2 separate regions of the Homo sapiens genome follow, and region 1 is linked to region 2. Evidence: fine-mapped expression QTL. A gene starts in region 2. The other region holds a variant in brackets. All regions are shown on one strand. Distances are between the middles of the regions.

What was found. PIP is the estimated chance that this variant, and not a neighbour inherited with it, causes the effect. A credible set is the group of variants that fine-mapping cannot tell apart.
Region 1: its variant is the best candidate, but not a certain one, in a credible set for the expression of EEIG2 in tibial nerve (GTEx, PIP 0.85).

What each region holds. Positions count from the first base shown.
Region 1 is chr1:108,528,851-108,537,185 of GRCh38, reverse strand. No RefSeq gene overlaps it. Among named protein-coding and RNA genes, the nearest start is that of EEIG2, 27 kb to the left of the region's middle. RefSeq lists an enhancer at 25-319 and a cis regulatory region at 2,986-3,561. The variant G/A (reference allele first, on the strand shown) is at 4,617.
Region 2 is chr1:108,556,904-108,565,238 of GRCh38, reverse strand. It overlaps EEIG2 (EEIG family member 2), which reads right to left and starts at 5,139. Exons shown (of 11, transcript NM_001010883.3): 1 at 4,674-5,139. The coding sequence starts at 4,810. RefSeq lists enhancers at 3,936-3,985, 4,449-4,548 and a silencer at 4,939-5,478.

The DNA of each region.
Region 1 (8,335 bases), 28 kb after region 2:
TCTATTAAGGCGGTGAATGGAAAAAAAGAATAGGGGATCAGATGTGGCAAGATTTTACAGGCCAGGCCTGGAAGTGTGTTCTTTTTCTACCTACATTCCATTGACTACAACAGTCATATGGCTGTACCTAACTGCAAGGGAGGCTGGGATATGTAGTTCAACTGTATGTCCAGTAGGAAAACAGAAATAATTTAGTAAATCATTAACCAGTTTCTGGCCATATGGCCATAAACTTGAAAATACACAATCACGCTCTCTCCCTCCTCTCCCTCCTCTCCCTCCTCTCCCTCTCCCTCTCCCTCTCCCTCTCCCTCTCCCGTCTCCCTCCTCTCCCTCCTCTCCCTCCTCTCCCTCCTCTCCCTCCTCTCCCTCTCTTTCCACGGTCTCCCTCTGATGCAGAGCTGAAGCTGGACTGTACTGCTGCCATCTCCGCTCACTGCAACCCCCCTGCCTGGTTCTCCTGCCTCAGCCTGCCGAGTGCCTGCGACTGCAGGCGCGCGCCACCACGCCTGACTGGTTTTCGTATTTTTTTGGTGGAGACGGGGTTTCGCTGTGTTGGCCGGGCTGGTCTCCAGCTCCTAACCACAAGTGATCCGCCAGCCTCGGCTTCCCGAGGTGCCAGGATTGCAGACAGAGTGTCGTTCACTCAGTGCTCAATGGTGCCCAGGCTGGAGTGCAGTGGCGTGATCTTGGCTCACTACAACCTCCACCTCCCAGCCGCCTGCCTTGGCCTCCCAAAGTGCCGAGATTGCAGCCTCTGCCCGGCCGCCACCCTATCTGGGAAGTGAGGAGCGTCTCTGCCTGGCCACCATCCCATCTAGGAAGTGAGGAGCGTCTCTGCCTGGCCGCCCATCGTCTGAGATGTGGGGAGCGCCTCTGCCCTGCTGCCCCGTCTGGGATGTGAGGAGCGTCTCTGCCAGGCCGCCCCGTCTGAGAAGTGAGGAGCCCCTCCGCCCGGCAGCCACCCCGTCTGGGAAGTGAGGAGCGTCTCCGCCTGGCAGCCACCCTGTCCGGGAGGGAGGTGGGGGTCAGCCCCCGCCCGGCCAGCCGCCCCGTCAGGGAGAGAGGTGGGGGGGTCAGCCACCCGCCCGGCCAGCCGCCCCGTCCGGGAGGTGAGGGGTGCTTCTGCCCGGCCGCCCCTACTGGGAAGTGAGGAGCCCCTCTGCCCGGCTGCCACCCCGGCTGGGAGGTGTACCCAACAGCTCATTGAGAACGGGCCAGGATGACAATGGCGGTTTTGTAGAATAGAAAGGGGGGAAAAGTGGGGAAAAGATTGAGAAATTGGATGGTTGTCGTGTCTGTGTAGAAAGAGGTAGACATGGGAGACTTTTCCTTTTGTGCTGTACTAAGAAAAATTCTTCTTCCTTGGGATCCTGTTGATCTGTGACCTTGCCCCCAACCCTGTGCTCTCTGAAACATGTGCTGTGTCCACTCAGGGTTAAATGGATTAAGGGCGGTGCAAGATGTGCTTTGTTAAACAGATGCTTGAAGGCAGCATGCTCGTTAAAAGTCATCACCACTCCCTAATCTCAAGTACCCAGGGACACAAACACTGCGGAAGGCCGCAGGGTCCTCTGCCTAGGAAAACCAGAGACCTCTGTTCACATGTTTATCTGCTGACCTTCCCTCCACTATTGTCCTGTGACCCTGCCAAATCCCCCTCTGCGAGAAACACCCAAGAATGATCAATTAAAAAAAAAAAAAGAAAAAAAAAAAGAAAATACACAATCACACATTTACAATTTGTGGTAAATGCTGTAAAGTTAAATAATATATATGAATGAGAATAGTTGGCTGGGGGCAGAGAGCTATAATACTTCAGGAAAATCCTTTGCTATGAGATAATATTTAAGCTGAGACCTAACAAATGAGGACAAGAGTGGTAGGAGGAAGAATCTCCTAGGCATGTATGAAGGTCCTGAGGTAGGAAAGAGCTTAGAGAATCCAAGGACCTGCAAGAAGACCAATGCAGCTGAACCTGAAAAGAGAGTTATGAAACAAGGCTAGACAGGTAGGCAAGGCCCATATCATGCAGTGCTCCATAGAATGTGGTAAAGAGTTAGCGTTTAATCGCAATAGCAGTGGAAGGACATAGTATGATTAGTGTTTTTTAGTATTTAATGCTAATAGCGATGGAAAGGCATGATGTGGTATTTCTAACAGAGTGTTAAAATGGGACTCTTCCTGATTCACTGCAGCTGAGGGCCTAATTACCCCCACATTTCAAAGTGCAGTGAGTGAGATCATCTATGGCAGAATTATGAAAGAGGTGCTGAAACCACTTCTGTGGATCTTCACCCCTCTGCCTATCTTAAGGCTATATAGGAACTAAAATTGAAAAGGCCAAGGAGATAGTTGAGTTTTGGAAATTCCCATTGAAAGAATCTCCAATGCATCATGTCTTCCCTACAACCCCATGAGAGATTGGTAGGACAGGTATTTTTACCTTGCCTCAGGTGTGCTAGTGAGGGGTGCTCCAAGGAGACCACATGGAAGGTTTGACCTGTAGCCTCTGGAGTCCATGGGTCACAGAAATACCTGGTAAATAGCTTACTGTCATCAAAGTAAGGAACTGCATTTGGAAAGTTAACTAGTATTGACAGTTTGCATTGGCAGCTCCAAGGTATGAAATCCTTGGGAGGAATATATACGTGCGGTCATTTAAAAGGGGATCATGCTTAAGAGAACTTCTGTCCACACCAGACAACCTTAGCAGACAGAGGCTGGAGACGTGTCTTCAGATTCAGAAGCTGAACGTGGGGCTGGAGTGGGTATGTAAGCATCCAGCTAAGGTCGAGGCTTTGCCTATTTCAATGAGCTCCAATCAGCGGAACTTACAGAGGACTATCTAGGGTGAGGAGATCGAGACCATCCTGGCTAACACGGTGAAACCCCGTCTCTACTAAAAAATACAAAAAAATTAGCCGGGCGTGGTGACGGGCGCCTGTAGTCCCAGCTACTCGGGAGGCTGAGGCAGGAGAATGGCGTGAACCCAGGAGGCGGAGCTTGCGGTGAGCTGATGCGCCACCGCACTCCAGCCTGGGCGACAAAGCGAGACTCCGTTTCAAAAAAAAAAAAAAAAAAAAAAAAAGTCCTGAGAGTAAGAGTCAGCTTTAAACACCTGCCACGGCCAGAGTCTGTCAATGGTAGATTACGCCTGTGTCTGTCACACAAGATCTTTTCTGTTTCTTATCTCTCTTTCCTGGCCCCTCCAACCTTGGCTGGCTGAAGCGGCTGAGACAATGAAGAGGAGGAGGCCAGGAGAGAGGAGCCAGCCCCACCACAAAGGCCGCCAGCCCTAGCAGGTTTGGGGTTTGGGTGGGTGGTGGGGAGGAAGCATTAACTGTAATGAAATTCAGTGTTTCAACCAACACGCTGAACTGGGCATTTTTATTATTGAAATGAGACCATTTTGCGACTGAAAGAGAGAATTCGTATTAACTGACAGCACCAAAAAAAAGTCAAGGGACTTGCCCCAGGCGCCAGGAAAGAACCTGTCCTGCAGAGCCGGTTTGATCAGGCTGTTGGGAAGAAAAGAATAAAGTTGTTTTCTGTTCTCACTTCAAGGTTTCTGGTTCTGTATAAAAGTTACTTGTTTAAACAATCACACTGGTTGCTGTGTGGAAATCAGACCGGAGGATGGCAGGTGTGAGTGCAAAGGGTCAGTGAGGAGGGGACAGCTGGCTCCTCCACTTCCTAGCTGTGTGATATTGGGAAAGTCAGTTAACTTCTCTGTGCATCAGTTTCTTCATCTTCAAGTGGTGCTAGAATGCTTTATAGGGTTATTGAGAAGAATAAATCAGCTAATGCATTTAAAGCACTTAGAGGGGTACCTGACCCATAGTAAGGATTATAAGGTGTTTGCTACTATTTTTATTTAAAAAATTCTGATTGTAGCAGCCCCAATGTAAGACAGTGTTGACTTGGACTACCTTTAACCAGAGAGCGTGAAAAAGCTCATGATGTATTTTAGAATGATATTCAACAGGGCTTTGTGGGGGATGATTGGATATGGAGACTGAGGCAGAGGGAGAGGACAAGAATCGCTCCCAGGGTTCTGGTTTGGACATCTGGTTGGAATTGAGATGACTGAGTTTGAGCAGGACAAGAATGGTATACAAGCTTAATAGAGATTCCTGGTTACTGATGCTTCAAAAAGTATGCATTTTATTTTATTTTTTAGAGACAGGGTCTCACTGTTGTCTGGGCTGGAGTGCAGTGATGCAATCATAGTTCACTGCAGCCTTGAGCTCTTTGGCTCAAGTGATCCTGCCACTTCAGCCTCTAGAGTAGCTGCGACTACCGGTGTGTGCACATGTCCGGCTAATTTTTGCATTTTTTTAATTGTAGAGATGGGTTCTCACTATGTTGCCCAGGCTGGTCTTGAACTTCTGGCCTCAAGCCATCCTCCTGCCTTGGCCTCCCAAAGTGTTGGAATTACGGGCATGAGCCACTGTGCCTGGCCAGAAAACTGTGATTTAATAGCATTGAAAGCTCTGAGCATCACGGGAGTGATTTTTCTGAAGTGTAAAGGCTCTAAAACAAAGTACTTGTTTTGCTAGGTCACCTTCCGATCCTTTGTCCCACTCTTTTAGATAATGGTGCAGGGGGAGTCT[G/A]GGTAATTATATAATAATATGGTTTTCGTTTTGAGAACCAAGAATGACCTCAACAGGCAATCAGTCCTTGCATAATAAACACTGTTAGAAAATAAATGGCATAATATTAACAGTTCTAAAACTAAAGTTACTGTCTTTGACAGATGTCTTCTAAAATTGTTATATGTCTAATAAACTTAGTAAAAAATATATTTATCCAGTGGGGACTGCAATATAGTGACAGGCCTTTTTTTTCAAAAGCACACACATAAATGCATGGATAAAATTTTAGTGCTTATGTTTTAAATACCTTGAATGGCTTGTCACCTTACCTTTGCTATTGGAAGTTGATCTTTGAAACTAAGGTAACAGCCTGATTCCCATCCTAAAGATATGCTGTGGAGATATAGAAACACTGTCCTTTGGTATTAATTTTCTATTTTCTTCCCTACCCTCCTGGGATACAGTGTTGAGAATCAAAATTTCTCTTTCTCCTGAGGTCTTGCCAAAAGCTGTCTTTATTACCCCCTCCTGCCTTGCTAGGGGTTGTGGAAGAGCATTTATGTTAGATGCTAGGGCTGACCAATGAACAAGTGGCTGAGGGCCTTTTTTATTCTCAGTCTTTAAATTTTGTAGAAACTATAAAAGTGACTCGAGTAACTCTTTGTAGACTTGCATATCCCCTCATCAGAACTTTCCTTTTAGTTGTCTTTCTTGACAGCACTCCACTAGGAGAGGCTGGGTCCTTCAGGGCTCTGTGAGTGGGAAGAGCAGGGTGTTCTCTGAGACCTTGGTGTCCATGGTCACACCATCCACCTGGCCTAGGGCCTCATCTGGCTTAATGACTACAGTATTCTTGATGTAGCAAGTATTCTTTTAGGTAAAAATAATAAATCTCCTGCAGTTTAGTGACAGATGTTTGGTTTGGCATGTTACTCTCGCTTTTGGCAAACTCATACGGTGGCGAAGCCAATCCACATGATCCAGAAGGGAGAAAATAAGATCAAATGTTAAAATGCTATACTAATCCCCTAGCAGATAACGGATGGGAGAGGAGGCCTTGGCTTTCAAACAGTGACTATCTTAGATAATAGAGGAAAAATTTGAAATCCATACAGGTACATATCAGGAAGTTAAAGTACCTAAAACCAAATGTTTAATGTTGTTATATCTCCTTTTATTTTTACAGCCATAGTGATCAGCTTGTAACATCCACTTTGAAAATTTCCAAGGCCAACATCATCTCAGTCATGAAGTATGGTACTTTGGGGAATCTATTGGATATTTGTTTATGTACTAGAGTGAACCTGGAACTGCTTATTCCTTTGCTTCCTTAAAAATGTATTTTCTAAAGTCAGCTGATTAGCAAAAAAAAGAAATAAAATTTATTGTCTTTTAATTTTCATCAAAGTAATTGTATACATAGTAAAAATAAGGTAGTGCTGAGGAGTTTATACTGAAAAACAACAGCTGTCTGCCACACTTCCCAGTCCCACTTTCCAGAGGAAAACCGCCTCCCTTTTTTGATAAAAAAAATTACATATTTTTGAGACGGGTTTTACTCTGTTGCCTAGGCTGGAGTGCAGTAGTGTGACCATGGCTCACTATAGCCTTGACCTTCCAAGCTCAGTGGATCCTTCCACCTCGGCCCCTTGGGTAGCTGGGACTACAGGCATGTGCCCCCGTGCCTGGCTAATTTTTTCATTTTTTGTAGAGACAGGGTCTCACTATGTTGCCCAGGCTGGTCTCGAACTCCTGGGCTCAAGCGATCCTCCCACTTCTGCCTCCCAAAGTGCTGGGATTATAGGTATGAGCCACCGTGCCTGACCAAGATTAAAATTTTTAATCACTGATTTTTATCCCTTTATTCCTTTAAACTGCCTCCTGCAAAGTTACAACTGAAAGTAATTTGGTGTGTATCTTTCAAGACTTTATTTCTATGTATTGTACTTATTCTCTATAATAAAAACAAGGATTTAGCTACCCTCTCCCAGTTTTTGATAGCTATTATTATAGTTTTATTCTTGGTTGCTTTTATACCTTTAAATAAAACACTTAAACCTCTAGTTTTTGTCCCATCAGCCATATATAATACCTCTTGACTCCCAGGCTATATTTATATAATCATGATTATTTATTGGATACTTAGTATGGCGACAGGCACTGTTCTAAGTGCTCAGTGAACAAAACAGAGCTCTCAGGCTCATTGGCACTTACATGGTAGTTGGGGGTAGGGGTGTTCAGATACAGAAATTATATAGTAGACATTGATGGGGTGTTCAGATACAGAAATTATATAGTAGACATTGATACATTCAAAATTAAAAAAAGTAAGACAGGAAAAGATAGTTCAGGAATCTGGAAAGTGGGAATAATGATTTTAAATCGGATGGTCAGATTTAACTTCATTGAGAGATGATGTTTGAGCAGACATAAAGGCAGGGAGGATGTTATTCATGTAAGCATTTTAGGGAAGAGAGTTCCAGGCAGAGGCAACAGCAAAGGCTGCAAGGAAGGAGTGTGCCTGGCACATTCAAGGATTACAGGTGGCTAGTAGGGCTAGAATGGAGTGAGCAAAGGGCAGCGTGGTGGAGGATGAGGTCAGAGAGATAACAGGGTGAGATGATATAGGGCTATGTGGATCAATATAAAGAATTTTTGCTTTTACGTTGGGTACAATGAGAAGCCATTGCAAGGTTTTGAGCAGAGTGACACGGTCTGACTTGTGGATATGTATAGCTTCCATGTTGAGAACTGTAGGAAGGCATAGGGGGAGGCAGGGGAGTAGTCGGGAGGCTTTTACAGTCGTCAAGACAGAGATGCTGGTAGTGCTGACCAGGAGATACTCGTGGAGTTGGTGAGAAGAGGTCACATTCTGGAGATATGCTGATGAGACTATTGGCCCTTTTCTCCTTTCTTCCACCTTCTACCCTTCCACCTACCATAATATTCTGTCAAGAATATTATTATTATTTTTTTCTCCTGAAACAGGGTCTTGCTCTGTTACCCAGGCTGGAGTGCAGTGGCGTGATCTTGGCTTACTGCAACCTCCACCTTCTGGGCTCAAGCAATCCTCCTGCCTCAGCTTCCCAAATAGCTGGGACTATAGGCAAGTTCCATCATGCCAGGCTAATTTTTGTATTTTTTGTAGAGATGAGATTTCACCATGTTTCCCAGGCTGGTCTTGAACTCCTGAGTTCAAATGATCCACCCACCCTGGCCTCCCAAAGTGTTGGCATTCCAGGCGTGAGCCATCGGGTCTGGCCTAGACTTTTGTTTTTATGTTTTCAGAGTTAATGCCAAATTCTTTCTTTATTGTAACCCATCTTTTATAAACTGTTGCTTACAGTTTGATTCTGGGAGTTAAATATCAACATAACCCCCCAATTTATGTTATTATGACTATTTAATTAATATTCATTGCATAGGCAAATAATATGCAAAAATTACATTTCCTTTTCTATAGGTCCAAGACCATGACCTCTGGGCTCTTTGAAGAAGGATATTTTAGAGTCTAAATTAAATAAATTCTCTTTCATAGTTACAGAAATTGCTGAAAATTGTGCTACATTTTAGCTGGCTTCATATTTGTATCTTGACTTTTCTATATAATTCTTGTCGTTTTTTTTTTTCCTGGAATTTCCAATTATCTTTCTTTTATCTTGCTGAGAGAAGAAACATATGTTTTCTTCACCATGTCACTGATATCATCTATTTTCATGGTCATTCTATGTTTTGTG
Region 2 (8,335 bases):
TCAGAACAGATCCTCATTGTTAACTGATACATGACTGTATTTTATTAGACAACAATTTAGCCTCAGTTGAATAGACCACCATAATCGTACAATGTATTTTCCAAATATTTTATTAACTATGGCATGTAAAAATCTGACAATTTACCCTGACCATTTTAATAATATTTATTACAAATAATTACCTTTTAGTCTTTATATTTTTCCAATCTCTTCATTGAAAACAATACCAAGAAAAACTGGCTTCTAAAATTAATTTTCACTAATAATCTTTATTTTTATTTATTTATTTTTGAGACAGAGTCTTACTCTGTTGCCCAGGCTGGAGTGCAGTGGTGGTGATCTCAGCTCACTGCAACCTCTGCCTCCCGGGTTCAAGCGATCCTCCTACCTCAGCCTCCTGAGTAGCTGGCATTACAGGTGCCCACCACCACATCTAGCTAATTTTTTGGTATGTTTTTTGTAGAAATGGGGTTTTGCCATGTTGCCCAGGCTGGTCTCAAACTCCTGAGCTCAACCAATCCGCGTGTCTCGGCCTCCCAAAGTGCTGGGATTTACAGGCATGAGCCACTATGCCTGGCCTTTTTTCACTAATAATCTTTAAAAGGGTAAAAACAATGTAAGGAAATTCTAAATAAGTTTAGTAAGCAGGCCTATATGGCTCCAATAGACAACATCTAAGAAATCCACATACCGCATAAATGCCTCCCACTACTCATCAGGCTGTCACCTCAAATGTAGCATGCTAAGCATACAACTTAACCCACTATATCTTCCACCACCATATGCAATATTCCCCTTAAACAAAACAAATAATTTTCCTGACTTCTTTACTTCTGTGGTGGCGTCAAGGCATCTGTCATAAGATTATCATTTATCAGTCACTTACATGAGACACCTCGGAGTTCAGGTTCTCATTAGCTCCTGCCTGGGTTATTTTAATAGCCTCCTAATTTGTCTCCCCATCTCTAATTTCCCCCCCACCCAACCTTGAATACAGATAGCATCAGCCTGTCAGCCAGGTGATACGCCACTTTAACCACACAACAACTCAGTTCAAGAATCTTAGGTTTAATTTTACCCTATGAGCAGTAGAAAGCAACTCTCATTTATAGAAAGAGAGTAGAAAGAAACTCTTTACAACAGTATTCAAAGTCTTTCTCTAATCTTATCTTCTGCTTCCATTCAACATGAACGCTCTGCAATCAGGCTGATCTATTATCAACTCCTATTGATGACTTGCTCAAGCTGTCCTCCCATCCTCACTTTGTCAATGCAAACTCATCCTCCCAGAGTGCTCCACAGAAATGCCAATGTGGTTGTCAGTAACCATTACAGTTGTAAATTAACTCTTTTGCTTTAGAATTTCAACAACACTCAATATATTGTCTGATCCATTGATTGGGCACTAAGTCACACTGTCTTCTACTGTCAAGCAATTATACATCTATGATCTAATTTCATTAGAAGTAATTCCCTTGTGGATCCTTATATTTGTTGTACTTCTCACAATCCCAGATGGAGAGCTATTAATAGAAACCTGGTAAATGCTCAACTAATACTTGGCCAAGAATAAATGATCTGCATGTTTAGTTGTTGTACAAAGCCAAATATATTAATATATATATCAAATACATATGACCTATATATATTTGGGTCTCTCTATTTATATCTATATATGCAATTTTCTGTGTGCCTCTAAGGCTTTTCTGTAGCAAGATGAGTATTATTTTATAAAGGTTCATCCATCAGGGAGTCTCCAAGACCAATCCTAAGTTTGGTGATTCATTAGGACTCACAGGACTCAGCATACAGTCCTACTCATGGCTAAGGTTTATTACAATGAAAAGATACAAAGTCGAATCAGCACACACTTAACTTCTCTAGAATTAAATTGTGATGTGCTGTCTACCAGGGAAACTCATTAGAGACTCAATGCCCAAAATTTGTATTAGGGCTGGTCACGTAGGCTGCCTAGCAAGAACCAAAATTCCAGATGGAATTTAGCATAAACCACTCCGTACAGTCTAGGCACAGTGAGCCACTCTTATCATTTACGTAAAGTTTTGTATCATGTATGGAACCATTTACCATTCAAGCTCCCAGATGCCAGCCAAGGGCCAGCCTTGTACATAGGCCTTTCTAAGAATAGCAGTCTTGGGCCTGCTATATTACCTCTTTTCTATGTAATTCATTTCATATTTTTACAGGAGAAATGTTACAGTGTTAACTACACCTGACTTTTAAGGGGCACATACAGCAATTTTTTAGAAGTTAAAATCTAGCGTTCAATTAGAGATGCACTGCCTTGACTGGCACCCACTAATTAAAAGTTCTGTGATTTTGAAATAATTCACTTCCTTTAGATATTTCAGATTTTCTTTTTTTTTTTTCTTGTAAAATGAGGTCTCTTTCTCAAACCAACAATTTTGTAGTTGTTAGGATAAAGGAATCAAATATAACATCTCAAGCAAATGGACCTTCTTGGACAAGTTCCTGGTCTCCTCTTTAAATGCCAACTGGGTGCTAAGGCACTGTTTAGGTGTTTTGGGCACATCATCTCACTAAATCCTCACACCACCACATGTCAGTGATGGTTTCTATTTTACATACAGAAGTTTTGGGACTCTAAGTAACCCATCCAGGTTTACCACAGTGGAACTGGGGTTTAGGCTTAGACTCACCGCATTCCAAATCCTTGCTCTTAGCTTTACACCAACTATCTCTACCTAATGTCAAAGGCACAGGCTCCTTATTGTGAGTCATTTCCCCCATACTATATGGCTTTTTGGTTTGGCTACACAGAGCACTATTCCTAATCTTACTTAAAATCAAATTGATCAAAGTCAAATTTTAATTGGAAGAAAAAGGGGTGAGTTTAACCCAAGATACTCAACTTTTTCATTTCTAAGTCTTGCGGAGTATACCCCTTGCTCATTAAAGTCATTAGGAAGCTCCCTATTCAGAAACTTTCATATATGGCACACGATTTATTCCTTTATCTGGCACCACCCTGTTTGAAGTTACACAGACCTGATCAGAATCTTGGCATCGCACTTACCAGCTGAGGGGACCTTAGGAAAGTTAGTTATGCTTTCTGAGCCTCAGTTTATTTATCTACGAAATGGAACCCCTACCTTATAGACTTGCTATGAGAATTAAATAAGATAATATATTTAGAAGCCAACACATATTTGCTGAATAAATGACTGCCTACAACGAAAGAATAAGTGACTTGTGGGAAGTAAGCCAAATAAACATAACTGAGGTAGGAAGGAAGCCCCGTAGACAAGTGCCCTGACCACCAGGTGTCACCACTGGCCCAGGAGCGCCAGTCTAACTGCCTGGCGTCGGGGGTGGCACCCTGCAGCAAAACAGTCTAGGCCTCAGGGCAAGACTGTCACCTGCACCAACAGGACCTTCACGAATCGGCTTAGGCTTTTCAACAAGTAAGAGATGGTCCAATATTTTTTTTGCACCAAAATAGGTTACATTCTTCTCTTACAGGTGTTTAAAATACTTAGCTGAATATCCACTGATGTGTCACCACAGTTTAATTTTAAAAACTGTCTTCGGCAAACTATTAATTTCATATATCCTTTGGTTTAGCCAACTAGACATTTTCTGGCTTCCATAGGCTTCAATATTGCCCCAAAGACAAGTTTCTAGCCCCAATTCCACAATCCAGTGACATTATTTCCTTTATACTATAAATGGGATGACGGAATTTTTTTTAAGTAGAATATTTTTAGGGCAGAAATAAAGCCTAAGACCAGTATATATGGGCAAAATAACATTAACTTTTAACCCTTCTTGATCTCAGGAACTCAAAAGTTCATTTAAAAAATTGTTTTCTCTCTCTATGTATATATTTTAAAGAAAGCACCTTAGGGTACATCTGTCAACCTGTGAGTAGCTCTGAAATTACTCAAGAAACACTGCCACACCTATTATTAATGCCACACCTATTATTTAATAGCTTCATTCTGTAACCTGCTAATGCCTCTCTCTGGGAGTGCCCAGGGGCTCATTTTAAAATGAGGGCAGGGCCTGGGCTCCCCATCTGGCTCTAAGCCCTCCCACAAGGAGACCTACTAGTGGCCACTTCAAGACTAATTCATCCAGCATTAGCGCCTAACTGGAGACGCCGCTCTCTGATGAGGCACAGACCGTTGTCTCGTCTGCCAGGAGCACTTGACTCAAGTCAAGCCTGGCCAGGCCTACCCCAGCCTCAGAGTGGGTGGCCAAGTCCCCTTGTAATCTACAAGGGAGAAGGAATTGTGCTAAGCACAGGTTTCTGTTCAGAGCTGGGCTCTTGGAACTCCTGCAGTTTGGGTTATTTTAGTTTTTAACAGCTCAAGTTCTACTTTGCATTTCACAAATATGGAAATGTCTTAAGAGAAAACAGAAGCATCCTCCCTCTCTGGCCATTGCTCCCATTCCTAGAGGATTTGGGAGGGAAGAGCAGATACCAGGCACCATCTGGAGTCAGGAGCGCAGGAACCAAGGCCAGCTGAGAAGAACCCATTTGCAAAGCACTTTGCAGATCAATAAATTCGACTGATTTTAGAGCGGTCCCTAGGGAAAGGCGAGCAAATGGGCCAAGGAGAGATGCTGCCCATCCAACAAGCCCTGGCCAAGCAGAAAGGGGCGAGGCGGCGCGGGAGGCGAGTTACCTGGAGGACTCGGCGGTGAAGCTGCCGCCGTCCAGCAGCCGCATCTTGCAGAAGAGGACCCCATTGACGAAGGGCACTGAGGAGAGCTCCTCGAGCTCGAAGTCCACCTTAAACTTAAACTTCTTCTTCTTCATCATCGTGAGAGCCAGGCGCCTGCAAGCTGGGCGCACGGCCGGGCGCCGCCGCCTCAGCTTGGCCGAGCCCCGGATCAGCCCAGCCCCATGGCCGGGGCCGCGAGCTGTGCGCGGGGGCGCGGCCGGGGGGCGCCGCAGGCCGGCCGCGGCCGGGGCCGCTGCCGCCGCCTCTCGCGGCAGCCTGGGCCGGAACGCGGCGGCAGCTGCGGCGCGGACCCCGACCGCCCGCGGGGAGCGGTCGTGCTGCAGCTCGCCCGGGGAGGTGAGCGCCCTTTTGGTGCTCAGCTCGCCGCCGCCGCCGCCGCCGCCTCCGCCGCCGCTGCCGCCCGTCTGGGAGTCGGGAGAGGCGAGGCTCGAGGAACCGCCGCCTCAGCGCCTCGGGGGTCGGGGGCGCCCCCAGCGGCCGCGGCCTGCAGCGCACGGCGGGGCGGAAGCCGGAGGGAGGGCGGGGACTTTGTGGGCGGGCGCGGGCTTGGCCGCGGACTCTAACCCGCGACGGCAGTTAGCACGTCACGCCTTTCTGGGGTTAAAAAAAGACAAACCCGACAGAGAAAGCTTCCTTCTACCGCTTCCTCTCCGCCTTTCTTTTCAGTTTTTGCACCGCCTCCTTTCTCCCCCACCCCCTCCAGTGGTTTCTTTCCTTTGGGTTTGAGAGCCATGGGTTAATAGAGGCAATTAAAATCTCAGCGTTGTTTTGGTCAAATTGAAATCCTAAAACTAAAATTTCCGTTAGGTACTCTAAATTCACGAGCCTTCAAATATAAAAGGAAGATAAGGTAGGAAAAAGGAAAATGATGTGCTGAGGGACTATCAAGGGCCCAGGCACCGTACTGCTGCAGGCGCTTTCTCTGGGGTATAGCTTATCTAGTTCCTGTCACCCAGGACAAAAGATAAAAGAGCAAAGAAGCAGTTAAAATAATACCCTCCCTTTAAAAATTTGTCTGTCTATACTGAGAACTGAAATGCTTAAAATCAAATTCTGCAGGCAGTCTGGCATGGCTACGCTGTAATCCCAGCTACTCGGGAGGCTGAGGAGGGAGGTTAGCCTGAGCCGGGGAAGCGGAGCTTGCAATGATCGGAGATCGCGCCACTGCACTCTAGCCTGGGCAACAGAACAAGCCCCTGTCTTAAAAACAAAACAAAATCTTCAGAGCAGGCTTAAAAAAAAATCTCCCTAGGGGAATAACAATTACCTGCCTTCTGTAATCATGCATGTATTGTTACAATGAATGTTACAAAGTTGGTTACGTGATGTTCATGTTTTTAAACTGAGTTATTGTCATTTTCACTCAGATTCTGCCACAGTAATTCTGAAAGGGTTTAATTGAAAATATTTTCTTTCTCAGTTTACTCGTTTACTCATTCATTCATATAAAAAAATTGCTTAAAATGTCAATCATCGGCTAGACCCCATAACCAAAAGCCAATAACTGCCCTCAAGAATTTTACAATCTAGTGAGGAAGACATGTTTAGACAGGTCATTAAAAAAACACAACCTAGCACCAAGCTATGTAGAACTCAGAGAAGCAATTAATTGAAGTTAATCAGTTTTCTGAATTTCAAAGGATGAAAATGATTTGGGACAAAGTGGGGTAAGTTGTTCTAGGAGAAATAAATTAAAAAAAAAAAAAGATTCAGAGGCAGGTTCGGGGGTGGGGATTTGGTAATGGATAAAGCTTCTTACCCTGCAGGACAGGGGGCAAAGACAGTGAGATGCATTTGGGGACTTTGAGATTTGTCATTTAGAGCACTGGATGAATGTTAATTTCATTGACTGAACATTGAAAGCAAGAGGAGGGCAGGTTGGGAATGGAAGAGATAATGAGTCTTTATGGGATCTGCTTGCAGTACATCTAGGGAGAGAGAGGCAGCCTTAGCTCATAAAAATGCATTGGCAATTGAAAATATACATTTGGGAATTGAGGTAATCGCTGATGGCTGAAGCCCAAAAGGTGGATAAGGATGAGTTACTCTGAAGAATATTTAAAGGGTAGGCAAAGAGGAGATCGTGAAGGTGCCTAAGAACAAGCAGTCAAGAGAAAAAGGAGATGAAGAAAGAGATGGCCTGGAAGCCCAGACGGTTTTAATCATGTAACATTCGTAGTTACAAAGTTCTATTGTGTGCCAGGCACTATGCTGGGTACTAGAGATGCAAATGAATAAGACATAGGGGCTTATAAAGGAATGGAGAAAAACAGAGATATGCAAACAGATCAACTAAAGTGTGTGTGTGTGGTATGTGAGTATGTGTGTGTGAGAGAGAGAAGAGAGAGAGAAAGAAAGAGAGAGAGCAATCTGTGATCCATGTAGGACAGAGGACCATTTCAAGAGAGTGCTGCAGAGCAGTCCCAGAGGATTTGGACTGAAAAGAAGCTACTGAATTGAAGGTCTAGGAGGTCATTGGTAATCTTGGCAAGAGAAGTCATCATAAAAGATAGTGACAAAGTAAGATGAAAAGTGACAAAGTAAGTGAAAAGATGACAGTGAAAAGTAAGATAGTGACAAAGTAATGTGGGTAAATAAAAATTATATTTTTATTGATGTTTTTCTGATTTTTTTGTCAGCGAATGAAAAGAGAGAGAGAATGGTGACCAGAGGAGGACAGTTCAATCTTTTTCAATAACATTCAGGAACTATCCAATATTTATTGAGTGTCTATTAGGTGCCAAGCACCTTAATAGGTCCTATGGATTTGAAATGCCGTCCCTGTCTTAGATCTCACGGTCTACTGGAGGACACAGAGAAGTAAGCAGGCAGTTGCAGTACAATGTAACACTGAGTGCTGTCTGTGTATGATGGTGAGTGGAGACTGCTGTGGGAGACTATAAAAGCTAACAGGGATAAGTAGTAGGTTTATGGAATGCCTTCTAGGGTAAGTGAAGCCTGAATTCAGGCCTTTAAGCTGAGGCCTGAATAATGAGCATGGGTGGGGAGCAGTTTCCAGGAAGGAGGTAGTGTCTGTGCAGAGGCTCAAAGGAAGAGAGACCATGTTGCAGAGGGAACTGAAATTAGTTCTGTCTGGCTGCAACTTAGAGTTGGGTACAGTGACAGGGGTTAACAAAGAGCCATTGAAGTTTTAAAGAAGAAGCATGATATATTCAGATTTACATTTTGTAAAGCTCTTCTACTTTATAAAATGGAAGATAGGAGACAGTCTGTTACTGTTTTTTAGACTCATGGTTTGATTATTAAACCCCTGATAGGAGTCATAGTCAAGGCAGGAAACAGATATCATATTCAATGTGTTTAAATGGGGAAAATTTAATGAAAGGACTCTTCACAGAGTTGACAGGGTAAGGGACCCACAGTCTGGTGAGAAGTTGAAAGGAAGAAGGGATAAATATCCTGATTTCTCTCACCTCCTACTTTCTGATCTCTTGGTGGTGCTTCCCATGATCCAAAACCAACCAAGGCCAGAGGGTAGAGGGGCTCGGAACATGCAGTTCATACAGGACAGACTCCTGGGGCACAAAGTAGGGCACTGAAAGGTAGAGAATGGTTGGAGGTAAGGGGATGGAAAGCCACTA